7 linked regions of the Homo sapiens genome follow. The protein of the gene in region 1 purifies or fractionates together with the protein of each later gene. This does not show direct contact. Each region holds a gene or a part of one and is shown in the gene's direction. Other genes may lie near its edges. The genes, in order: COQ8A, RAB7A, EIF3L, ESYT1, PMPCB, TRABD and RBM34.

What was found.
Region 2: the proteins of COQ8A (region 1) and RAB7A purify together in Homo sapiens (affinity purification with mass spectrometry; one large-scale study listed by BioGRID and IntAct). This does not show direct contact.
Region 3: the proteins of COQ8A (region 1) and EIF3L purify together in Homo sapiens (affinity purification with mass spectrometry; one large-scale study listed by BioGRID and IntAct). This does not show direct contact.
Region 4: the proteins of COQ8A (region 1) and ESYT1 purify together in Homo sapiens (affinity purification with mass spectrometry; one large-scale study listed by BioGRID and IntAct). This does not show direct contact.
Region 5: the proteins of COQ8A (region 1) and PMPCB purify together in Homo sapiens (affinity purification with mass spectrometry; 2 studies listed by BioGRID and IntAct, with this or other methods). This does not show direct contact.
Region 6: the proteins of COQ8A (region 1) and TRABD purify together in Homo sapiens (affinity purification with mass spectrometry; one large-scale study listed by BioGRID and IntAct). This does not show direct contact.
Region 7: the proteins of COQ8A (region 1) and RBM34 purify together in Homo sapiens (affinity purification with mass spectrometry; one large-scale study listed by BioGRID and IntAct). This does not show direct contact.

What each region holds. Positions count from the first base shown.
Region 1 is NC_000001.11:226,981,794-226,985,293, forward strand, and holds part of COQ8A (atypical kinase COQ8A, mitochondrial), read left to right. Parts: intron 1-233; coding exon 234-356; intron 357-884; coding exon 885-970; intron 971-1,100; coding exon 1,101-1,241; intron 1,242-1,758; coding exon 1,759-1,840; intron 1,841-1,967; coding exon 1,968-2,061; intron 2,062-2,300; coding exon 2,301-2,442; intron 2,443-2,754; coding exon 2,755-2,862; intron 2,863-3,082; coding exon 3,083-3,148; intron 3,149-3,460; coding exon 3,461-3,500. UniProt on the Homo sapiens protein: Atypical kinase involved in the biosynthesis of coenzyme Q, also named ubiquinone, an essential lipid-soluble electron transporter for aerobic cellular respiration.
Region 2 is NC_000003.12:128,809,683-128,813,182, forward strand, and holds part of RAB7A (ras-related protein Rab-7a), read left to right. Parts: intron 1-3,500.
Region 3 is NC_000022.11:37,852,419-37,855,918, forward strand, and holds part of EIF3L (eukaryotic translation initiation factor 3 subunit L), read left to right. Parts: intron 1-3,146; coding exon 3,147-3,226; intron 3,227-3,500. UniProt on the Homo sapiens protein: Component of the eukaryotic translation initiation factor 3 (eIF-3) complex, which is required for several steps in the initiation of protein synthesis.
Region 4 is NC_000012.12:56,141,721-56,145,174, forward strand, and holds the end of ESYT1 (extended synaptotagmin-1), read left to right. Parts: intron 1-564; coding exon 565-705; intron 706-857; coding exon 858-1,012; intron 1,013-1,114; coding exon 1,115-1,213; intron 1,214-1,296; coding exon 1,297-1,428; exon of another isoform or gene 1,429-1,507; coding exon 1,508-1,613; exon of another isoform or gene 1,614-1,805; intron 1,806-1,859; coding exon 1,860-1,909; intron 1,910-2,102; coding exon 2,103-2,142; 3' UTR 2,143-2,954; downstream 2,955-3,454. UniProt on the Homo sapiens protein: Binds calcium (via the C2 domains) and translocates to sites of contact between the endoplasmic reticulum and the cell membrane in response to increased cytosolic calcium levels.
Region 5 is NC_000007.14:103,307,435-103,310,934, forward strand, and holds part of PMPCB (mitochondrial-processing peptidase subunit beta isoform 1 precursor), read left to right. Parts: intron 1-161; coding exon 162-274; intron 275-1,517; coding exon 1,518-1,661; intron 1,662-2,880; coding exon 2,881-3,041; intron 3,042-3,500. UniProt on the Homo sapiens protein: Catalytic subunit of the essential mitochondrial processing protease (MPP), which cleaves the mitochondrial sequence off newly imported precursors proteins. Preferentially, cleaves after an arginine at position P2.
Region 6 is NC_000022.11:50,192,413-50,195,912, forward strand, and holds part of TRABD (traB domain-containing protein), read left to right. Parts: intron 1-614; 5' UTR 615-648; coding exon 649-681; intron 682-1,163; coding exon 1,164-1,242; intron 1,243-1,927; coding exon 1,928-2,094; intron 2,095-2,487; coding exon 2,488-2,628; intron 2,629-3,500.
Region 7 is NC_000001.11:235,144,251-235,147,750, reverse strand, and holds part of RBM34 (RNA-binding protein 34), read left to right. Parts: intron 1-3,500.

The sequences.
Region 1 (3,500 bases):
ATATGTACGTGTGCATGCCTGTGTGTATTGGGAGGCGCTGGCGTAGGGCCTGGGCATGTGGCTCACACAGGCTTGGGGAGGTGGACATGGAACAGTAGTTAGTTATGTTGCTGGTTTTATGGACGCCTGGGAGGAAGGACATTGTCTGAGCCTCCGTCTGTATCAGGTGGGGCTTGCCATCCCACTCCCAGACCCCCCCGAGTGCCGTGGTGACCCCTCTTGCCCGCCCACAGGGAAGAAGGCCGTGCTGGGTTCCAGTCCTTTCCTGTCCGAGGCCAATGCAGAGCGGATCGTGCGCACGCTCTGCAAGGTGCGTGGTGCGGCACTCAAGCTGGGCCAGATGCTGAGCATCCAGGGTGAGTGGGCGCGGGGGCTGCTGCCCCGGGACTGCGTGGGCTGCTGGGGGGGTCAACTTCCAGGGCCGGGAGCAGTGGCCCCACCAAAGCTCAGTGGGCAAGATGTGAGCAGGCTGGGGAGAGATCTTAGAAGATAATAGGCCTGGTCTCCAGACGGGTGGCTCTGGGTCCAAAGAAACACATGGAATAAAGAGCAGAGAGGAAAAATTGCTCTCTACAGGTGGTCAGAACACAGGTCATTTCAACATTTTACTATGTTTTATTTTCCAAATTTCTTTTGTAATTATGAAAAACTCTGCATGTTGAGTGTAAAAAGCCCACCTTCTCAGGTCACTGGGCGGAGGCTGGGGCTCCCGGGAAGCTGAGTGGCCGAGGGCGTGTGTGCGAGGGCTCCTGTCTTTCTGGCCTCACCCGTGCTCCTGGTGGGGAGGGTGTGGTGGCCAGGGCATCCCAGGAGTGTGCCCGCCCAGGTCCTGGGCGCACACTTTAATCCCCAGGTTCGCCCTGTGTCATTCTCCTGCCTTCCAGATGATGCCTTTATCAACCCCCACCTGGCTAAGATCTTCGAGCGGGTGCGGCAGAGCGCGGACTTCATGCCACTGAAGCAGATGATGGTGAGGAGCCAGGGGCTCTGCCCACTCTCTGTGGCCTCGGCCCCCACTGGGTGGAGGGGACAGACTTGGGGCTTCTCCCGGTGGCCCAGGCAGGGCATGCTCAGAGCCCCTCCCTGGCCCTGCCCTTCAGAAAACTCTCAACAACGACCTGGGCCCCAACTGGCGGGACAAGTTGGAATACTTCGAGGAGCGGCCCTTCGCCGCCGCATCCATTGGGCAGGTGCACTTGGCCCGAATGAAGGGCGGCCGCGAGGTGGCCATGAAGATCCAGGTAGGCGGCCTGATGCGCAGTGCCTGTCCCTATGGGGGCTGCAAGGGGCAGAGCTGGGGCCTGGCTCATGGAGGCCTCTACACCCCACGTCCCGCAGGGCACCCTCTCTCCTGGCAGGGCCATATGTGGTGTCTTCTGGCCCCAGTGCCTGGACGGCACCAGAAGCTTGGGAAGTATTTGCTAAATGAGTGACTTTGGGGGCACAGAGGGGCCCCCAGCAAGCTTGATTTGGGGTGGGCAAGGACAGGGGACAAGTGATTGCTTTTTGGGGCCAGAGCTGGTGGGAGGGTGGCCGTGAGCTGTTCCCAGGGGTGAGGTGAGGCAGGAGTAGGTGGACAACGAGGCTGTGATGGGGTCCAGGTCACGGCAGCATGGCTGGGTCTTAGCTCTGGTTCTCCAGGGTGTGGGCTGGGGCCAGGACACAGCTGGGAAGCCAGTTGGGGGTTGGGGGAGTGCCCCAGGCAGGGCCCACCCGTCTCCCTGGGCTAACTCCCCTGCCTCACCCATACCCCCACAGTACCCTGGCGTGGCCCAGAGCATCAACAGTGATGTCAACAACCTCATGGCCGTGTTGAACATGAGCAACATGCTTCCAGAAGGTCTGAGGCTAGGTGGTTGGGTCAAGGGCAGGAGTGGGTGGCAGGCATCTGTGTTGGGTTCTGGGGACCAGAGGGGGTCCTCCCTGCAGAGCCCCCTTCCTCGCTGATGCCCTCCTCCCTGGCCCAGGCCTGTTCCCCGAGCACCTGATCGACGTGCTGAGGCGGGAGCTGGCCCTGGAGTGTGACTACCAGCGAGAGGCCGCCTGTGCCCGCAAGTTCAGGTGTGGCCCCCGGCCGGGCCCCTTGCGTGTTTGCACCAGGGAGGCAGAAGGGACCATGTTCAGCAGCTGGTGAAGGCCCCTCCAGCTCTGAGGGGCAGAGGGCTGGGGTTGCAGCCTGGGCCGAGGCCATATCCTGCCTGGGGTGAAGGAGGGCCCTCTGCCTGGTTGGGGGGTGTGTGTGGGGGGGGGGACGGTGTGGAGGGCCTGTGGCTAGGGCGTGACCTCCCTCCCCTACCCAGGGACCTGCTGAAGGGCCACCCCTTCTTCTATGTGCCTGAGATTGTGGATGAGCTCTGCAGCCCACATGTGCTGACCACAGAGCTGGTGTCTGGCTTCCCCCTGGACCAGGCCGAAGGGCTCAGCCAGGAGATTCGGAACGAGGTTTGTCTGTGCCAGCAGACAGGTGGGGCCAGGGTGGCCCTGCTGTGTGGCTGTTTGGTGACCTAATAGTGTGAGCTGGGGACTTGGAGCCCTGAGGTGCTCCCTGGGGGTGAGGGGCAGTGAAGTAGCACCAGTGGGACTTAGGGGGACACAGGGGAGCTGCTGCCTTCCCTGGCCCAAGTAACACTGGGAATCAAACAGTCCCTAGGGTAGGGTGGGTAAAACAGGAGGCAGGGGCTTCTCTGGCCCCAGTCTCCCAGGGCACCAGGCAGTGTGGTGCTGCCTGACACAGACCCTTCGCGCTGTCCACAGATCTGCTACAACATCCTGGTTCTGTGCCTGAGGGAGCTGTTCGAGTTCCACTTCATGCAAACAGACCCCAACTGGTCCAACTTCTTCTATGACCCCCAGCAGCACAAGGTGAGCCCCAGGGTGGGGGCACCCGCAGCCAGGCCTGAGAGCTTCTCCGAATGGGGCACGTGAGGCCCTGGACTGCCCCTTGTCCTGGGAAAGTCAGCAGAGAGCTCAGGGCTCTGGGAGTGGGGATCCTCACTGCCCTCTGTTGCACCCCCTTCCCGGCCCCACACACCCGCACCATGGAGCACCAGGGCCAAACTTCTCCTGGTGTCTCTGTCCCCAGGTGGCTCTTTTGGATTTTGGGGCAACGCGGGAATATGACAGATCCTTCACCGACCTCTACATTCAGGTAACTGGAGAGGGGCCCTGGCCTTGGTCCATGTTTTTCTGAGGCTGGGACAGGATGCTGGGGGACTCGGGGTAGGGAGAATGACTGGGTTCCTGCCCTTGTGTCCCCATCTGCGCTGCCTGCCCCTCAGGTCTGGTGACAGCAGGCAGTTAGGCTGACAGCTGCCAGGCGTGGTGTCACAGCACTGGCCGGGGGCCCTGTGCAGGGAGAGGATGAGGGTGGGGTGGGCTCGGGTGTGGCACTTGGCTCCCTGGGATGTCGGGAGCTGAGCTTTTCATGCTGCCCACGGTCCCCTCCTGTGCCTCTCCCCAGATCATCAGGGCTGCTGCCGACAGGGACAGGGAGACTGTGC
Region 2 (3,500 bases), on another chromosome or scaffold:
TTTTGGCTTATGGCAGAAAAGAGAGACTTGCCTTTCCTCTCAAGAGAGCTCAGCCAGTTGTTTGAAATCATTCAGCTATGTTACACAAGCCGTTTCCCTCCCTGAATAGACCGTGGCCTGTGCTAAATGCTCGTATGTGCTGGGATCTGTTTCTGGTCTCTCCAGTCTGTTCTGGTGATGTCCATGCCATGTTCCCTTATCTGGACTGTGTTGATTTGACTGCCTGATGAGGCAAGTTTCCTCTTGCCACAGTCTTTTTTTTTTTTTTTTTTTTTTTTTTTTTTGAGACGGAGTCTTGCTCTGTTCCCCAGGCTGGAATGCAATGGCGTGATCTCGGCTCACTGCAACCTCCGCCTCCCAGGTTCAAGCGGTTCTCCTGCCTCAGCCTCCTGAGTAGCTGGGATTACAGGCATCCGCCACCATGCCCAGCTAATTTTGGTAATTTTTTAGTAAAGATAGGGTTTCACCATGTTGGCCAGGCTGGTCTGGAACTCACATTGTGAACCGCCCGCCTCAGCCTCCCAAAGTGCTGGGGTTACAGGCATGAGCCACCGCACCCGGCCTGCCACATTTCTTTTTTAATAATTTTGTTTCCACCATTTTCCTCTCTTACCTTCCACACCCCAAATAAAACTCTGTTGAGATTTTGATTGGAATTTTTTTCTTCAAGCCCACTGTTTTTTCCTCATTGATTGCAGTTTTGTTGTGGCTGTTGCATTAGTCTGCTCAGGCTGCGTTAACAAAACCCCACAGCCTGGGAGGGTCCAACAACAGACATTTTGTTTTCTCACAGTTCTGGAGGCTGGAAGTCCATGAGCAAGGTGCTGGCACATGTTTCTGGTGAGGGTGCTTTTCTGGGCTATCTTCTCACTGTGTCCCTCCCATGCCCTTTCTGCTGTGTGCACAGAGAGAGGACACATGAGCAAGGTGTCTCTGGTGTCACCTCTTCTTATAAGGACACGAATTCTCAGATCAGGTCCCCATCCTGCAACCTCATTTAACCTTCATTCCTTCCTTACTCCAAATACAGCCACCTGAAGGGTTAGTGCTTCAACACAGGAATTTTGGAGGAACACAAACATTCTGCCCAGCCGAGTGCGGTGGCTCATGCCTGTAATCCCAGCACTTCGGGAGGCTGAGGCGGGTGGATCACCTTAGGTCAGGAGTTCAAGACCAGCCTGGCCAACATTGTGAAACCCCATCTCTACTAAAAATACAAAAAATTAGCTGGCGTGGTGGTGGGCACCTGTAATCCCAGCTACTTAGGATGCTGAGGCAGGAGAATTGCTTGAACCTGGGAGGTGGAGGTTGCAGTGAGCCGAGATTGCACCATTGCACTCCAGCCTGGGCAACAAGAGCGAAACTCCATCTCAAAAAAAAAAACAAAACATTCCACCCATGATACTATTTTAGGTCTTGTTTCTGTTCCTTCAGTAAGATTGATTGATTCTTTTTTTTTTTAGAGACAGGGTCTTGCTCTGTCAGTCAGGCTGATACGCAGTGGTGCAATCATCACTCGCTATAACCTCCAACTTCTGGGCTCCAGCAGTCTTCCCACCATAGCCTCCTAAGTAGGTAGGACTACAGGCACACCCATGCTATAATTGATTTATAATATGATCCTTTGCCTTTCACAGTAAACATATTCCTAGGTACTGGTGGGAATATAAAATGTCACTATTTGTAATAGCCAAAAAGTAAGAACAACTCAAATGTCCATCAACTGGTAAGTGAATAAACAGGGCAGCTTATCCATGCATTCTAATATTATTCAGCTATAAGAAGGAATGAAGTAGTGACACATGCTGCCACATGGGTGCTAAGTGAAGGAAGCCAGTTGCAAAAAGACCATATGTTGTACGATTCCATTTCAGTGAAATGTCCAGCCCGGATGCAGTGGCTCATGCCTAAAATCACAGCACTTTGGGAGGCTGAGGCCGGAGGATCACTTGAAACCAGGAGTTTGAGACCATCTTGGGCAACATAGCAAGGCCTCATCTCTACTAAAAATTAAAAATTAGCTAGGTGTGGTGGCATGAGCTTATAGTTCCAGCTACTTGGGAGGCTGAGACTGGAGGATTGTGTGAGCCCAGGAGTTAGAGGCTGCAGTGAGCTGTGATCATGCCATTGCACTCCAGCCTGGGCGACAGAGCAAGACTCTGCCTCAAAAAAAAAAAAAGAAAGAAATCACAGTCCACTAGAAGAAATGGGGAAAATTAAAATAAATAAATAATGTTTAAAAATTAAGTGTCCAGAATAATAGGCAACTCTATTGAGACAGAAAGTAGATGAGTGGTTGCTGGGTCCAGGATGGTATAGAATGGGGGTGGGAAGGAACTACTAATGGGCATAGGGTTTTTTGGGGGGTGATGAGAGTATTTTAAACTTAATGTTGATGGCTGCCCAACTTTCTGAATATACTAAAAACCATTGAATTGTACACTTCATGGCATGTGAGTTAAAACCCAGCAAAGCTATTAGGAGTGCAATGGCACCATCTTGGCTCACTGCAACCTTGACCTCCCGGGTTCAAGCAATTCTCCTGCCTCAGCCTCCTGAGTAGCTGGGATTATAGGTGCTTGTCACCATGCCTGGCTAATTTCTGTATTTTTAGTAGAGACGGGGTTTCACCATGTTCGCCAGGCTGGTCTTGAACTCCTGACTTCAGGTGGTCGACCTGCTTCAGCCTCCCAAAGTGCTGGGATTACAGGCGTGAGCCACCATGCTCAGCCAAAGCTGTTATTTTTTTAAGTATGTATTCCTAGATGTTTTATACTTTTATAGTTATTGTGAATGGAATGATTTTTTTCCTAGATAACTTTTAATGAATAGAAACAGTTCCTGCTTTATCTCCAAATTCTAGAACAGTCACTGGCACACAAGTGCTCAGTGTTTAAGTGACATTGTTTTCCTGCACCCAAAAGTAGAATGCTGCTCCTCATTGGAAGCATGTTACTTTAGCAAAGTGCCACTAAAATGACCATAGTCCATGTGCTCTGATCACTTGTCACAGATGGTGATAAAATTCATTCACAGCTTCCTTTCTAGGCCTGCAGCATTTGGGAGACAAAACTCTGCTAAACCTTTGGAAGAAAAAAGAGACCAGAGGCCATTGGTCCCGAAAAGTGGATGGAAGATAGGGAGGTAGAAGGAATGTTACAGGCTGAGAGGGCAGCTCACACTCAGCTCCAGCCACTTCACCTCGTGCACACACTGGCTGAGGGTTGCCAGATGTTTGAGAAAAGCTAGAAATCCAGACCATTGTTAACCATTGGCAACTATAGGGAACATACAGAAAGCATCTGAACTGGATGTGGTAGAGCTCCCAGATCATGATCTGATTGAGAATGTCCATGAACTTCTGTCCTGATTGCTCAGTGCAGACTGCTGCTTCTTCTGGCAAGACTCCTCTCTTCACATTGACCTGGAGTTGTCACAAAATCTGTTTTTCTCTTGCTACTCCCCTGAGCATGGCACCTTCTGCCAGAGCGCTCCCTTAA
Region 3 (3,500 bases), on another chromosome or scaffold:
TCAGAGCAAGCTGAACTCCGCAGGTTTTGAGGGGCTGCCGTTGTGTAATGAGCGTTAGAGATAAGATAGGTCAGTCAAAGCTGGGATAGTCAGGAGTGACTTCACCAAGGAAATAGAATTTAAGCAAGTCAGAAGGATGAGGGAGAGAAAACAAATAGCCAAAGGCCTATTGATCAATGAATAGGATCTCTGACATGTGTTTTCTTTTTTTGTTGTTTTGAAAGAGCTGATTGTAGTTGAAAAGCAGAGGAAACCTCAGACATTGCATGGTTTTAGGCCTCACCCCTGCCACTCTCGTGAGCCTAAGTTCTACTTGGTGTGGACTCCAAGGTCCTTCCCGCCCCTGCAAGCCACCCATTAGGTTGAGCTGAGAGATCAGCCAATGGGAACAGAGTCACTTATGACCAAGAAGAATTGATCTGGGGGTTAGTTAGTGAGGAGAGAGAAAGGGAGAAAACCTTGTTCGGAGGTTGAACACCTCCAGCCGAAGAAGGTGCAGCATCGAGGTCTTTCACCACTAGCAAATGGATCCAAGTCATGCGGCACCAAAAGAGGTTAGCAGCTGAAGGGTGTTGAAGTGACACAACACCAAAACATGCTACCAATGATGAATCCGTATCTGTACAGGTCTCCAGCAGCCTCAGTTCTTGCCTCCTCAAAAGAAAGAATTCGACTGAGGGGTAAAATGCTACCGATGATGAGTCCGTATCTGTACAGGTCTACAGCAGCCTCAGTTCTTGCCTCCTCACAAGAAAGAATTACACTGAGGGCTAAAATGCTACTGATGATGAGTCTGTATCTGTACGGGTCGACAGCATCCTCAGTTCTTGACTCCTAACAAGAAAGAATTCGACTGAGGGGCACAAGGCAGAAGAAGAGAGGGAGGCAAGTTTGAGAGCAGGAGTGAAAGTTTATTAAAAAGCTTTAGAACAGGAATGAAAGAAAGGAAAGGACAGTTGGAAGAGGGCCAGGTGGGTGACCTGAAAGGCAAGTGTGCTGAACTGTGTTTTCTTTATTCCCCGGGTCTTTTCTGATTAGAAGTATATAAATCAGCGCCTACAAAAATTAGCTGGGGCATGGTGGCAGCATGCCTATAGTCCCAGCTAGTTGGGAGGCTGAGGTGGGAGGATCACTTGAGCCTGGGAGGTTGAGGCTGCAGTGAGCTGCACAATGGAGCGAGACCCTCTCTCAAAATTAAAAAATGGACCTGATGTTCAATAGAAATGTAGCTAGACATTAATTTTAATTTTTCAGCCAAGCGAAGTGGAGATTTATTTAAAATATTATTTCTATATGTAATCAGTATTTAAAAATTAAGGGGATATTTGCCCTTTTTTTTCTTTATACTTAAAGTTTCCTAAATCCAGTGTGTATCAGAAATACTTGCTTTGTGTTTAGATTTTATAGAGTTTATGACTGGAAAAGTAATTCAAATTTGAAATTTGAATCTTCAAATAGTAGAGTAATTCCAAATAGACCTAAAAGTTTTCCAATACTGAGTTAAGTGTTGGTTTTTAAACTTAAATGGCAACTAACTGAAATTTAAAATTTAACTCTTTGCTTATATAGTAGCCACATGTAGCTAGTGGCTATTGCATTGGGCAGTGCCCGCAGATACAGATGACAGTTGAAGCCAAGCATCTTGTAAGTCTTTCTCTAGGAGAATGTGAGAAGAAATGCTGGTGCCTTAAGAAGTATGTTTCTTTAGGGATGGGTGGGCAGGCAAAGAAAGGATCTAGTAAAGGAGGCAGAAAGAAAAGTGAAAAGTAGATAGTAAATTGGCAAAGAAATGTCACAGGAACCAAAAAGTCTGCAGAAGAAACTGAGGAAGAGAGTATCACCAAATGTTTTAGTGAGGTCCAGATGAGAAAAAAAGCCAGTTGAATTTGGTAACTTGGAGGGCCTTGATAACCTTAGCAAGGTCAATGTCAGTAGAGTGATGGAAGCAACAGCCAGAGAGCAGTGGGGTGAGAAAGGGGAATTGGTAAGTATCGGGGACATAAAGGGTCACTGAGTGGCTTTGTGTTTTGTTTCTGTGTTTTTTCTGTTTTTGTTTTTTGTTTTTTGAGACAGGATTTCGCTCTTGTTGCCCAGGCTAGAGTGCAATGGCGCAATCTCAGCTCATCGCAACCTCCGCCTCCTGGCTCCAAGCGATTCTCCTGCCTCAGCTTCCCAAGTAGTTGGGATTATAGGTGTGCACCACCATGCCTGGCTAATTTTGTATTTTTAGTGGAGACGGGGTTTCACCGTGTTGGTCAGGCTGGTCTGGAACTCCTAACCTCAAGTGATCCACCCGCCTCAGCCTCCCAAAGTGTTGAGATTACGGGTGTGAGCCAGCGCGCCTGGCCTGTTTCAGTGTTTCTTTTCTGTTCTGTTTCTGTGTTTCTCCCCAACCCCCATCCCGTAGAGACAGGGCCTTCCTATATTGTCCAGGCTTGTCTTGAATTCCTGGGTTCAAGCGATACCCCTATCTTGTCCTCCCAAAGTGTTGAGATTACAGGCGTGAGCCATCATGCCTGGCCTGTTCAGTGTTTTTTAGGGGAACTTGAGCATGTTTATATGTTGGACTAAAAGAGCCAGAGAAGCAGGAGGGGTGGGGCTTGAGGAGATTGGAGGAAAGTATTAATAGCTGCTGAGGGCATCAGGAGAAGAAAATTAAACAACCTGTTGCAGGTTTGTCAAGTAGCAGTGTTTGGATTGGATAGGCAGCAGTGTTTAAATTGGATGCTGTAGGTCTGTTGTGGCCTTGGACTGCAGCAGACTGATTTGCTTCTGTGTTTAGAGACGTTTGGATGTGCTCCAGGAGATGGAAACGCTGTGTTAAAGAATGGTGGCCAAAAAAGTAGTTCTTATAGCAGAAAACAGCAAGCAGTTAAATATGGCTATAGTTAATGATACAGAGGCAGGAGATTATCCTGAAAAGCTTGATGGGTCCCTAACTGATACAAAAACAATATTTTCTTGTGTTGAGAAAGATTGAAGTGTGGAGTTGGGTTGAGGACAGTTGTGGGCTTGAAGGGCTTTGGCCTCAGCTCTGTTTATTTGACATCTTCCCCTTTCTAAGCCTGGGTCCTCATCTGTAAAATGTTAGGATTGGCATTCTCCAGTCCTTTTGGAATTTTAGAGATTTTTTTCTTGATTTTTAGCTGGACCAAGCTGACTGAAAGATTCTTCAAGAATACACCTTGGCCCGAGGCTGAAGCCATTGCTCCACAGGTTGGCAATGGTAGGTGTGAGCTCTTTATATCTTGTGCACTGAGTGGAATCCAGTGGCTGAGTCATTAGACAGGAAGCTCAAGAGGGTCTGTGTCTGTTTTGCTCACCATTTTGTTTCCTTGGTGCTTGGTATGTAGTAGGTCCTTGGCAAAATAACTTGTCGAAGGCTGGATGATTTAAGAGAGGACAGAGATCTCTCATATATGGTGAAATTTAGATCTTTGTACTGACTTGTTTCTATTTCCTTCTATAATTTGGGGGTCATTACAGTCACTCTGGAATAA
Region 4 (3,454 bases), on another chromosome or scaffold:
CAGAGCGAGACTCCGTCTCAAAAATAATAATAATAATTTCTGAAAGTTTATGAGGTAAAGATGGTCCACTCTACTCTGGTTAAGAAAGGAAGGACAGGCCAGACACAGTGGCTCACACCTGTAATCCTAGCAATTTGGGAGGCTGAGGTGGGTGGATCACCTGAGGTTGGGAGTTTGAGACCAGCCTGACCAACATGGAGAAACCCCAGCTCTACTAAAAATACAAAATTGGCTGGGCGTGGTGGCAGGTGCCTGTAATCCCAGCTACTCAGGAGGTTGAGGCAGGAGAATCGCTTGAACCTGGGAGGCGGAGGTTGCGGTGAGACCAGATCACGCCATGCACTCCAGCCTGGGCAACAAGAGCGAAACTCTGTCTCAAAAAAAAAAAAAAGGAAGGAAGGACAGAGGGAGGGACTAGCAACTGTTACCATGGCTTCCCTGCCTTTCTCAAAGGGAAATCTCACCAAACCACCTATGAGTCCAAGCGTTTGGACCTTTAAAACACCAGGATTAACTCATTTGTTGATGCATTCGCCTCTTGATCATGGTCCTGTTGCCCCACAGGTTCGGGGTGAGGGCACTGGCGTGCTGGGCTCATTATCCCTGCCCCTCTCAGAGCTCCTCGTGGCTGACCAGCTCTGCTTGGACCGCTGGTTTACACTCAGCAGTGGTCAGGGGCAGGTGCTACTGAGAGCACAGCTAGGGGTGAGTGACAGGAGATGGTGGGCAGGATGAGAGGGAGGAGGGGAGGGCCTTCACAGGTGAGGGACACCCAGGAGGGTGGGAACAGAGGGCCGTGTCCTTAGAGTGAGGGAACTGAGAGAACTCTGCCCAGCTCACAGCTTTCTTGCCCCTAGATCCTGGTGTCCCAGCACTCGGGAGTGGAAGCTCATAGCCACAGCTACAGCCACAGCTCCTCATCGCTGAGTGAAGAACCAGAGCTCTCGGGGGGACCCCCTCACATCACCTCCTCAGCCCCAGAGCTCCGGCAGCGCCTAACACATGTTGACAGGTAAAGGGCTGGGACAGGAAGGTGGGACGCAGTCAGAAATAAAAAGTATTACAGGTTCACTAGGCTCTAGCTTTCCCCAGACCTACTGATATTTCTCCACAGTCCCCTTGAGGCTCCAGCCGGGCCTCTGGGCCAGGTGAAACTGACTCTGTGGTACTACAGTGAAGAACGAAAGCTGGTCAGCATTGTTCATGGTTGCCGGTGAGACCCCATCCCTCCTGTCCTCCAGATCGCCTCCATCCCTTCCCTCAGGTTACCATATCACCTACATCCTCCTGTTGTAGGTCCCTTCGACAGAATGGACGTGATCCTCCTGATCCCTATGTGTCACTGTTGCTACTGCCAGACAAGAACCGAGGCACCAAGAGGAGGACCTCACAGAAGAAGAGGACCCTGAGTCCTGAATTTAATGAACGGTCAGTCAGTGGGCATTCAGGTGGAGAGATGGCAGGCTTGGAAAGGACTCCTGGCCCCTAACATCCAGTCCTACCCCAGGTTTGAGTGGGAACTCCCCCTGGATGAGGCCCAGAGACGAAAGCTGGATGTCTCTGTCAAGTCTAATTCCTCCTTCATGTCAAGAGAGCGTGAGCTGCTGGGGAAGGTAAGAGGGCAGGATGGCAGGGCAGAGGTGAGGGCTGGAAGCTGCTGGCACCAAGGTTATAGTCCCTGTGAGGAAGGAAGTACCCCACGTGATCCTTTAGAGGTGACTCACCTCTGCAATGGTTTGGGACGAGTATGTGATGAAGGAACATGGTCTTTGGAGATTTCAAAACAGCATCATCAGAATGAGATCCTGTCTCAAAAAATAAAAGAAATAACATCTTTCCCCTATCATCTTCCAACACAGGTGCAGCTGGACCTAGCTGAGACAGACCTTTCCCAGGGTGTAGCCCGGTGGTGAGTGTCTGCGTGGGTGGGGGATGGTCTGGATATTTCAGTGGGAGAAATTCCAATCACAGGAAAGGAAAAAAAGATACAATCTGAGCAGAGAACCATTGATTCTATCAAGTAGAGAAGCCCTTGGATCGTGTCTCATTTATAAATATGATGACACAAGAGTCATCTTTCTACATGAGCCCTCTTTTCACAGGTATGACCTGATGGACAACAAGGACAAGGGCAGCTCCTAGGAGCTGGCGAGTCCCAGCCTGACTGCTCTGTCTTCCTGCCTTCGTCTCGCTCCATCACCGCCTCAATGTGATGAGCCTAAAGCTAGGGTCCAAGGGCAGAGCCTGTGCCCTTCAGCCCTTTCACCTAACAGGCCCATATTCGGGCCTTTGCCTGACCAAAGAGAAGAACCGTATGTTCCCTTTACTGCACGGCCTTTATCCTTCTGGGCCCCTGGGGCGGGGACCTGAGCTGGCTGTTTCCTGCTTTGCCTGCACATTGTTCTCCCTTCCTCCCAACTCCTCAGGGCCTTCTGTATCTGTGCCTGGCCAGTGGCAGCACTAGCAGTGGTATTAGCTTATGCCAAATACAGCTTTGGAAGGATCTTTTTTTCTTTAACTAGATGGTCACCTTCTTCCCTACCACACATGGGTGGGAAGGTGGACAGGCTAACCTCTCCAGCTGTGAGCCTCTTAGACTACTGCATGTAGCAAATGTTCAGCAGCTCAGGCCCCCATGTCCAGTTCTGTCCCCACTGTCCTCAACCCTGTCCTGAAAATTCTACTGCTTTGATGGCTGGGGCCAGTCTCTTGTCACTTTGGAAACTGAGGACGCGTGGATTCTACTCAAGCCTCCAAGTAGTGGCATATCAGTCTTGGAGCTCCTAGCTGGTGATACGGAGAGGGCTTTGGAGGACTTGGGACAGCAGGGCCAATTTTTTTGCCCAAGTGCCTAGGCTGCTAACTCACTGACTAGAACTTAATCTGGTACTTTACAGTTTTGCACCAACTCTGCCAAGCCACTGGATCTTACATTAAACATCATACTCAAACCAGCTGTGGTTCTTTTCCTTAAGGATAGGGAATCAATCTACCCATCTGATGTTTATTCCTACTGTCAAAAGCCTTTATCCAATTCGTGAATCATGTCAGTTTAATTAATGGTCAAAGCCTACTAAGGTTGCAGCCACCAAGAATGTTGAGGATGGTCAAGAGACCTGTGTAAAGTAGCTGCTGTTGCATTTCAGGTGAGACTCATTTCCAGTCACAGTGATGAACTCTGTTACCCATCCAACTTGTCTGCTGACCACTATAGGCTTTCCAGGGAAGGGATTCCTAAACCTGGTAAACCTGGGAGCTCTGTGCCACTGCACAGGCTCCTGGTGTCTCTGTGCCACTGCACAGGCTCCTGGTGTCTCTGTGCTGTCAGGGCATGCTCAGCTACATTCAAAAGGGCTTCAGGCCCATCTAGCAGGAGCTGAGAAATACACCCATTTCGATCATCTGTACACCTTGAACTCTGCTCCTTGCAAGAACTTTCCTGGAATGCAAGCTA
Region 5 (3,500 bases), on another chromosome or scaffold:
ACACCAAGGAAATAGGTGTGCTATGTGAGCTTACTCTTAAATAATGGCTTTTAGTGAGTGTAGATAGTTCATGTGTAATGTACATCACATTATACCACCTAGGGTTTATTGTAAACTATATTGCTGCTAGATACATGTGAAAATATTTTCTTTCAATTTAGGTGTTTCCCATGATGAATTGCTTGACTTAGCAAAGTTTCATTTCGGTGACTCTTTATGCACACACAAAGGAGAAATACCAGCTCTGCCTCCCTGCAAATTCACAGGAAGTGAGGTAGGGCAAGCCTTCCAGCTAGTATTTAGCCTTTTGGATTCCTTGTGTTGTATTTACACATAAGTAAACAAAATGTGCATATTTCCAGTAGGAAAAGAATGGAATAATAGGAAAAGGGAAGAGGATGTACTCATTTGCTTACATTCCTTCCTCTTCCGTATTCTTTAACCACCTATTTTTCTTCCTAAGGAAGCAAGGTTTTTTTTGTTTTGTTTTTAAATTTCTCCATTCTAGTCTGAAAGGAAGCAAAGTTTTTAAGAGCAGTTTATAATTTGGTCTTTTTGTGCTTTTTCTTTGGCACTATGCCAATTTACATATTGTAATATCTGGAAGTAATCTTTTAAACCCCGTATTTTGACTTTCACTTCAGGTTTACTCTTGGCTCAGTTTTGCCCACAGTATGTTTTGGGAGGGGGTAGTAACTGTTAGAGCCAGAACTTGCAGGGGATCTACTAGTTATCAACTAGCTTTAAGCCCCACTAGCTGCTTAGTTTGCCATGTTGAGGATGATGCTCAAAGTAGTATCTGGAAAATGCCCTGATATTGGCAGCTGCCTAGAACTGTAGCATTGGCAGTACAAAAATAAACCTGTAACGTCAATATGACATTTCAATAGAAAAGTTCAGATTGAGGCCGGGTGCGGTGGCTTACGCCTGTAATCCCAGCACTTGGAGAGGCTGAGGCGAGTGTGTCACTTGAGGTTAGGAGTTTGAGACCAGCCTCACCAACATGGTGAAACTCCGTCTCTACTAAAAATACAAAAATTAGCTGGGCGTGGTGGTGCATGCCTGTAGTCCCAGCTACTCGGGAGGCTGAGGCAAAATTGCTTGAACATGGGAGGCCGAGGTTGCGGTGAGCCGAGATGGTGCCACTGCACTCCAGGCTGGGCGACAGAGTGAGACTCTGTCTCAAAAAAAAAGAAAGAAAAAGACAAATTCAGATTGACAAACACAAAGGATTGATTTCTACCAGTGAAATGATGCAACCCTTTTGACCAGGTAAACCATGTGGTGCCTGTCTGTAGTAAAATGCTTTGGGAAAAGTAATTTTTCCCTAATTTAGTCTTAATTCTTCTAGATTAAACTCAACAATGTAATGAGGCCTGATAGTTAAAAAATCAAAATAGAGTCCTGGTGTGCATTTTAACTTTGCAGTTAATGGGACTGGTGATTTTTTCCTTGTTAATAAGCATGTTATATAATGTTAATCTTAACTAGAGGTCCTCCTGCTTTATCTTAACTAGATTCGTGTGAGGGATGACAAGATGCCTTTGGCGCACCTTGCAATAGCTGTTGAAGCTGTTGGTTGGGCACATCCAGATACAATCTGTCTCATGGTTGCAAACACGCTGATTGGCAACTGGGATCGCTCTTTTGGGGGAGGAATGGTAAGTGATTTTAAAAGAAATTTTCCATAACAGATGGAAGATTATCATGTTTTCTTAAATATAAGTTCTTTGTAAGAATCCTTTTTTAAAGTGGCAGAATAGAGTCTTGTACTGTGAATTCTGACTTAAAAATATAAACTGATCCTGGATTGCATGTGGGCCAGAAAAAGTTTCTTTTTTTCTTTGCCACAAAGTTTATTAGTGGCAAAATTTGAATAAGGACAGAATTAGCTAGAAGTACTATGTCAATGTTAATATCCTAATTTTAATAGTCAGTAGGCCCTCTATATCTGTGGGTTCCATATCCGTGGATTCAACCAACCATAGGTGGAAAATTTTGGGGAACAAATGGATGGTTGCATCTGTACTAAACATGTATGGACTTTTTTTTTGGTCACTTCCTAAACAATATAGTATAACAACTATTTACATAGCATTTACATGGATTGGGTATTTATCTAGAGATGATTTAAAGTATACAGGAGAATGTGCTTATATGCAAATATTACATATACCATATTACATGAGGGCTCTAGCATCTGTGGATTTTGGTATCCACAGGGATCTGGGAACCAATTCTCCACAGATACTGAGGAACTATACCAAGGTGATGTAAGAACATTAATTTCCTTGTTTTTCACAAGTACATACTAAAGTATTTGGGGCAAGAAGCATCACATCTAAAACTCAGTTGAAAAAACTTGTATAAAGAGAATAAAGCAAACATGGTAAAATAACAGGGAATCTAGATAAATGAAATTCTCTGTACTGTTTTTGCAACTTTTTTGTAAGTTGGAATTATTTCAAAACACATTGTATAGATTTGTCTTTACTCATAGATTTCTCCAAAATACATTTCATCTAAATAATCTTAAGCTTCATATGCAATATAACTTTGAATCTTTAAGCGTATGTAGCCAAGAGTCCTAGAAATTGGGTTGATAATAGCCATCTAGTTTTAGAAGTAGGTATAGCTACTACATTAATTATAAGGACTCATTGCTTTTATAACATGAATTTCTCCAGGGGGTGCACTGGGTAAGTGAGATAATAAACACAATTCTTAGTCATACTGAATTTTAACTCTACTACTGAGATGTTGAATAAAACTAGGAAACAGCCTCTAAGGATATTCACTATTTTCCACACACTCCATTTTTCTTTCTGTATTTTGGACATGTATAATTAAAATTCTCTTGGAATTTTTTTTTCCTTGCAGAATTTATCTAGCAAGCTGGCCCAGCTCACTTGTCATGGCAATCTTTGCCATAGCTTTCAGTCTTTCAACACTTCCTACACAGATACAGGATTATGGGGACTGTATATGGTTTGTGAATCATCCACTGTTGCAGACATGCTACATGTTGTTCAAAAAGAATGGTGAGAAAAATAGCTTTAAGTAATTTAAATTTTGCCTTTAATTCGTTTTAAACTAGTTTTTTATTTATACTTTATGGTGATTTATGGTAATTTTACCTTTTAATTAAGAGACCTAGATAAACAGTAGTTGCCATGTTTTCAAAGGTTGCAGTTGGTTTTTCCTAAGTCTCAAGATGTGAAGCTGATTTATACTATAGAATTTTTTTTTTTTTTTTTTTTTGAGATGAGGTCTTGCTCTGTTGCCCAGGCTGGAGTGTAGTTGTGCCATCTCGGCTCACTGCAGCCTCCGCCTCCCAGGTTCAAGCCATTCTCCCACCTCAGCCTCCCGAATAGCTGGGATTACAGGCGCACCACCATGCCCACGATGCCTGGCTAATTTTTTGTATTTTTTAGTAGAGATGGGGTTTCACCATGTTGACCAGGCTAGTCCTGAACTCCTGACCTCAGGAGATCCACCCT
Region 6 (3,500 bases), on another chromosome or scaffold:
CCCCCTCGTGTGGCTGCCCCAGCCTGTCCGGGTTTCTACCGTGGTTCCTTCCACACCATGTTTGTCTCTTAAAGTGGGAGAGAAGGTCTTAGGTCCAAACACGTTGATTTGTGTGCTTTGTGGATTCCTCCGTCTGTACTGACTCTGTGCCGGTGTTGTTGCCCAGGCTGTAGTTACTGAAAGGGGAAGTGGCTTTTGTACAAAGGCCCTGGGGTCCTTGCCATGTGTCAGCAGCTGCGTTGCTGTGTCCTGAGATCATGTGTGGACCCCAGGGCTGCCTTCCTATGTGTGCCCGCCGTGCCGCAGTGAGGGTTGGGCAGCTCTGGCCCTGTTCTGAGTGAGGCCTGTGCACCAGCAACCCGCCCTGGGCCCGTCTGCGTTTGGTTTATGCTGGGGTGTCTGGGGACCTGCTGGCCTTTCCCCACCCGGGCCTGACCTGAACCGACCCTGGACCTCAGCAGCCTTTGATGGGCAGGAGGCATTTGGGGATATGGGGGAAGGAGCCCCCAGGCCCACCCAACAGATGGTTCTAGACTGACAGGGCACTACGCAGTGAGTCCTGAGCCAGGTCTGGGGCTCCAGGTGGAAACCCCGCCTCTCATGCCTCTCCTCAGGCTCCCCACAGGTGCAGGAAGCCGCCGCCCAGCCATGGACGGGGAGGAGCAGCAGCCACCGCACGAGGTGAGGTGGAGGCTGGGCTGGCTGCACAGAGACAGGGGCGGGGGGCTTCCCCGCTTTGTGGGCTCTCGGGGTCGGTCCCTGGCTGTTGTTCTGCAAAGGTGATCTTCACAGGGTTCTCCAGGGTCAGGCAGGAGGCACCTCCGAGGGAGAGGGGCGCTGGGCTGAGGTGGCCTGGTGGCCCTGTCTGCCCAGCTTGATGGCAGCCGTGCCAGTGATGGCCAAGCAGGAGGGGTACTGACAGTGTGGGGCCTAGGCTCTACGGAGGCCCTGCTTTTCAGGGTGTGTGGTACACAGAGCGGCCACGGGTCCCTTTCCCGGGTACGTGGTCCGTGGAGCGGTCACGGGCCCTCGTTTTTCAGGGTGTGTGGTCCACACAGCGGCCACGGGTCCCTTTCCAGGGTACGTGGTCCGTGGAGTTGCCACGGAGCCCTGGCTTTCTGGGGTGCATGGACCCTGACTTGAACTCTCCTTTCCACCTGCAGGCCAACGTGGAACCTGTTGTGCCGTCAGAGGCTTCAGAGCCGGTGCCCAGGGTGCTTTCTGGAGACCCCCAGAACCTGTGTACGTGTCCCTCAGGGTCCTGGCACGTTCCCCGGTGTTGGGCTGTTGAGTCAGGGAGGAGGGGGAGGCAGCCAACCACTGCCAGGGGCTTGGAGCTTGTGGTGAGCAGGGGCCCTGGCCGAGACCTGAGGTAGGTGCTGCTAGGCCTGGTGCCACCCAACAGCAGCTGCTCCTGGGCCCTGCCTGGCAGTGGAGCCTCTTGGAGGGGCTGCAAGCAGCACAGGCAGGCCCCTGGGCATGGGGGGCTCGTGAGCACAAGCAGTGTGAGCGGCACGGGAGTCCCTCCTTGCTGTGGCCTCAGCCTGTCCCTCCTGAGTGGGGTGGGGGGGCCCATTTCGCCTCAGAGCCCCTCCCCTAGCTGAGCCCCCTGCGGCACCTGCCCCCACTGTCCCCCACACCGAACCTCATCCACAGCAACCCCCAAGGTCGCCCTCATGGGGTGTATGGGGCACAGGACTCCTGAGGCCCTGGCTTCTCGAAGCCGTGCAGCTCACAGAGGTGGTAGCCGGTGTTCCCATCACTGGGCAGGCAAAGCCTGTGGAGTGTGACGCTCGTCAGGAGTCTTGTGCTCTGCACCTGTTCAGTTCTCAGAACCCAGGAGGGTTCTAGAGCCCAGGCTGCCAGCGGGCCCGGCGGCGTCCTTGGGGTGGGCCCGGCACCACAACGGCCTGTGCTGCTGTTGCAGCCGACGTGGACGCCTTCAACCTGCTCCTGGAGATGAAGCTGAAGCGGCGGCGTCAGCGGCCCAACCTGCCGCGCACTGTGACCCAGTTGGTGGCTGAGGACGGGAGCAGGGTGTACGTGGTGGGGACAGCCCACTTCAGCGACGACAGCAAGAGGGACGTTGTGAAGGTGAGCGCCGCCACCCGCCACATCCCGGACACGGGTTGGTGTAAGCTCCTGTGTCCTGCACTCAGGGACCTCCCGGCAGGGCCCGTGTGCCCGTGTGTGCGCACCGCAGGCCTCCTGCTTCAACACTGTGGTCCCTGGGAGTGGCAAGGTGGGCTTCCTGCCTGGGAGCCGTGACGGCCTTGTGCGTTTTCCCACTTAACAAGTGAACAAGCCTCACAGCTTCCTCTCTCGTCGCTTAGAGAATTGAGCTGTCACTGCAGCAGCGGGGTTAGCTAGCCCTGGGGTGACGCCAAGGCTGGCTGCTCCTGGGATGGGGCCCCTGGTGCTGGCGTCAGCTGTGCTGAGGGGCAGGGAGCGGCTGTGTTCTCGAGGTGTGACCTGTGGCTGTTGCAGACCATCCGGGAGGTGCAGCCTGACGTGGTGGTCGTGGAGCTCTGCCAATATCGTGTGTCCATGCTGAAGATGGACGAGAGCACGCTGCTGCGGGAGGCCCAGGAGCTCAGCCTGGAGAAGCTGCAGCAGGCCGTGAGGCAGGTGCGCAGCCGCGGGCAAGGGTCAGGGTCAGGGTCGGGGTCAAAGCCACCTGTTTGCCTGTTGCCCAGGTTCCTCTCACAGCCCATGCCCCCAGTCAGTGTGGCTGTGCCTGGCCTGCCCTGGGGATTGCCGGGTTAGGGACCTCCCCTGGGCCAGGAGAAATGAAAGAGGCTCCATTACCCGGTTTCAGGCAAGGGAGGAGGAAATGGGTGGCTCTCCAAGCTGAGGCAGGGGCTGGTCACCCGAGGACTGGGTTGCTGAGCAGTTGCTGGGGATGGGTCAGGTCTCAGTGCAAGGTTGGCCCCCCCGGTACCACACCCAGGCCCAAAGTGGGTGGGGCTCAGGGCTCCTCCTGTCCCCACTTCTCCAGCCTTGCAGTGACCGGAGAGGCAGGACTTTCTCATTGCTCTTTGTGTTTTCGGTTTTTGTTTTTTTTTTTTGAGACAGAGTCTCGCTCTGTTGCCCAGGCTGGAGTGCAGTGGTGCGATCTTGGCTCACTGCAACCTTCGCCTCCTGGGTTCTAGTGATGCTCCCGCCTCAGCCTCCTGAGTAGCTGGGATTACAGGTGCCTGCCACCACACCTGGCTAATTTTTTGTATTTTTAGTAGAGACGGGGTTTCACCATGTTGCCCAGGTTCATCTCAAACTCCTGAGCTCAGGCAATCCACCCACCTCAGCCTCCCAAAGTGCTGGGAATACAGGCATGAGCCACCGCGCCCGGCCAGGCTTTGTGTTTTCAAAGGGGGCCCAGCACGCCTGACCCCAGCCCTGGTCAGTTTGCCTTCCCCCTGTTCAAAGGAAACAATTATAATGAGATCTTATAGAAATGTCCCTAAACGTTTGGCGCCTGCCTTTCATTTTTTAATTTCTCC
Region 7 (3,500 bases), 8.2 Mb from region 1:
TATAATAATGTACTTTAGAAACATTTCTGGGAATCCTGTTCTATCAAGCTTTTGTATGGCAACAGTCCCTTTGGACATCTTGGTGACTTCATTTCAATATTGAGTCTTCATTTGGAGTTATTTGGCCGACCAGGTCTTCGCCGGTTTTTCCTCATAACCATCACAGTGCCAGGTGTATAGTTAAGAGTTGATAAATATATAGATTCCCACAGTGTTTGCTGAGGTAACCAAAGATGCAGATCCTCCTAGATACCAGGCATTGTTCAGTGCTGTGGTGACTAGAAACCTTAGTAAGATACAACCCTTCTTTTTGAGTCATACTTTTATTTCTGTATGAAGTTGAAACCCAGGAGCCTAAATTTGAACAGAAACAGAGGTTCTGACAGGTGTATGTACAAGTACTACTGAGGAGTTTAGTGGGATATGTTAGAAAATTGGAATTTTCACACCATACCGTCAGCTTCTCCTCCAGCCCCATCTCATTGTTTTTTTGTTTCTTTGTTTTGTTTTGTGTTTTTAACATACAAGCTCTTGCTCTGTCACCCAGGCTGGAGTGCAGTGGCAAGATCTTGGCTCACTGTAGCCTTAAACTTTTGGGCTCAAGTGATGCTTCCATCTCAGTGTCCCCAGTAGCTGGGACTACAGGTGTGCACACCACCCTGGCTAATTTATTTTATTTTATTGTAGACACAGAGTCTCATTATGTTTTTCAGGCTGGTCTTGAACCCCGGGCTTCAAGCAATCCTTCTGCCTCAGCCTTCTAAAGCAGTGGGATTATGAGCATGAGCCACTGCCTTTTTGTTGTTGTTTTTAATTTAAAATTTAATGATGGCTGGCTGTGGTGGCTCACACCTGTAATCCCAGCACTTTGGGAGGCCGAGGTAGGTGGATCACTTCAGGCCAGGAGTTTGAGACCAGCCTGGCCAACATGGCAAAACACTGTCCCTACTAAAAATAGAAAAATTAGCAGGGTGTGGTGGCACATGCCTGTAGTCCCAGCTACTTGGGAGGCTGAGGCAAGAGAATCGCTTGATCCCAGGAGATGAAGGTTGCAGTGAGCCCAGATCACGCCATTGCACTCCAGCCTTGGTGACAGAGCTAGACTCTGTCTCAAAATAAATAAATAAATAAAATTTAATTATACACCTTTTCTCTAGTCAGCCAATTCCCTACCCTAGGCAAGTGTTTTTAGTTTCTTATGTAAGCTTCTAGAGACATCTTAGCATTTAAAAACTGATACGCATAGATGTTCTTCTTCCCACATAAAACAGTTTAACTCACTGGTATTTAATATATGCACTACTCCACACCTTCCCTTTTTCTGCTTAGTACAACTTGGAGATCTGTTTATATTGGTGTGAAAGTGATTATTTTTATAGCATTTTTTAAAAATGCCCTTTTTCTTAGAGTATTCTCTAGGTGTGCCTTAATTTATTTTATCAAATCTCCCACTGATGGACATAAAGTTTTTTCCCAGTCTCATGACCATTACAAATAATGCTGAAGGCCGGGTGCAGTGGCTCACGCCTGTAATCTCAGCACCATTAGAGGCCAAGGTGGGCAGATCGCTTGAGCCCAGGACCTCCCTGGGCAAAATGGCAAAACCCCATCTCTACAAAAAATTAGCTGGGCATGATGCTGTGCACTGTAGTCCCAGCTGCTTGGGAATCAGACGAAGGAGCACCTGAGCTCAGGAAGTGGAGCTATGATTGCACCCCTGGCACTCCAGCCCGGGTGATAGAGTGAGACCCTGTCTTCCAAAAAAAAAAAAAAAAAAAAAAAAACCTGCTGTAATATTTTAGCTGGTCATGGAGGCACGTGTCTGTAGTCCCAGCTACTTGGGAAGCTGACGTGAGATGATCACTTGAGCCCAGGAGCTTGAGGCTTCAGTGAACTGTGATCACACCACTGCACTGTAGCCTGAGCGACAAGCAAGACCCGCTCTCTCAAAACAAAACAAATAATGTTGGAGTAAATGAGTGACCTTGTACTTAGGTAATTTTGTACATAAGCTAAACTTATCTGTAGGATAAACTTCTAGCAGTGGCATTGCTCAGTCAGAAGGGTATTTGCATTCACAATTTTGACTGCTGTCTCGTAGAGATTGCAACCTATTTATGTTCCCACATCTTTACCAACAGTAAAGTCTTTTACTTTACAAAAACAGTATGTTGGCCAGGGAAGATGGCTCATGCCTGCAATCCCAGCACTTTGGGATGCTGAGGTGGGTGGATTGCATGAGCCTAGGAGTTCGAGACCAGCCTGGGCAGCGTGGCGAGACCTCATCTCTACAAAGAAACAAAAAAATTAGCTGGGCAAGGTGGTGCACGCCTGTAGTCCAGCTACTCTGGGGGCTGAGGTGGGAGGATCACTTGAGCCCGGAGAATGGAGGCTGCAGTGAACCATGATTGCACCACTACGCTCCAGCCTGGATGACAGTGAGACCCTATCTCAAAAAAAAAAAAAAAAGTATGTTTTTGAGCTTTGTGGTTGTTGGAAACCTGAGTGTGGTATTTCTAATTTGAATTTCTCTTATGAGTGAGCATCTTGTCATGTAATTTAAGAGTCATTTGTGCTTTCTTTTATTTGAATTATTAGTCTTATTGATCTGTGGGATGTTCATGAAATCAGTCTTTTGTGACATGAATTATGAATATTTTTCTCTATTTGTCATTTGCTATTTGTTTATTTATTTAATTTATTTTTTGAGACGGAGTTTTGCTCTTGTTGCCCAGGCTGGAGTGCAATGGCGTGATCTCAGCTCACCGTAATCTCCGCCTCCCTGGTTCAAGTGATTCTCCTGCCTCAGCCTACTGAGTAGCTGGGATTACAGGCATGTGCGCTACACCTGGCTAATTTTGTATTTTTAGTAGAGACGGGGTTTCCCCATGTTGGTCAGGCTGGTCTCAAACTCATGACCTCAGGTGATCTGCCCCACCCTCGGCCTCCCAAAGTGCTGGGATTACAGGCATGAGCCACCGCGCTGGGCCTTATTTTATTTTTAAGAGATAGAGTGTTGCTTTGTTCTCCAGCAGAAGTGCAGTGACTCAGTCATAGTCCACTATAGCCTGGAATTCCTAGGCTCAAGTAATCATTCTGCCTCAGCCTCCCAAGTAGCTGGAACTACAGGTGCACACCACCACACCCTAGCTTGTTGGCTTTTTGACTTGGCTTATGGGAAATTTTGCCATGTAAAACTTTTTTCCTTTTTCTTATAGCCAAAATGTTTAAAACCTTTTTTTTTTTTTTTTAGTTTATTAAGGCTACTTCCAGTAAACTGCACATATTTGACATGTACAATTTTATAATTTTAACATATGTAGGCAATCTTGAAACCACTGCCATAGTCCAGATACCAAACACTTTATCATCTCGAGTTTCTTCTAACCCTCTGCAATATGTCCCTCCACCTCTGTCCTCAGGCAGCCATTCATTTGCTTTCTGTCTCTATGTGTTAGTTTGCTTTTTCCAGAATTTTATATAAGTAGAGTCATCATACA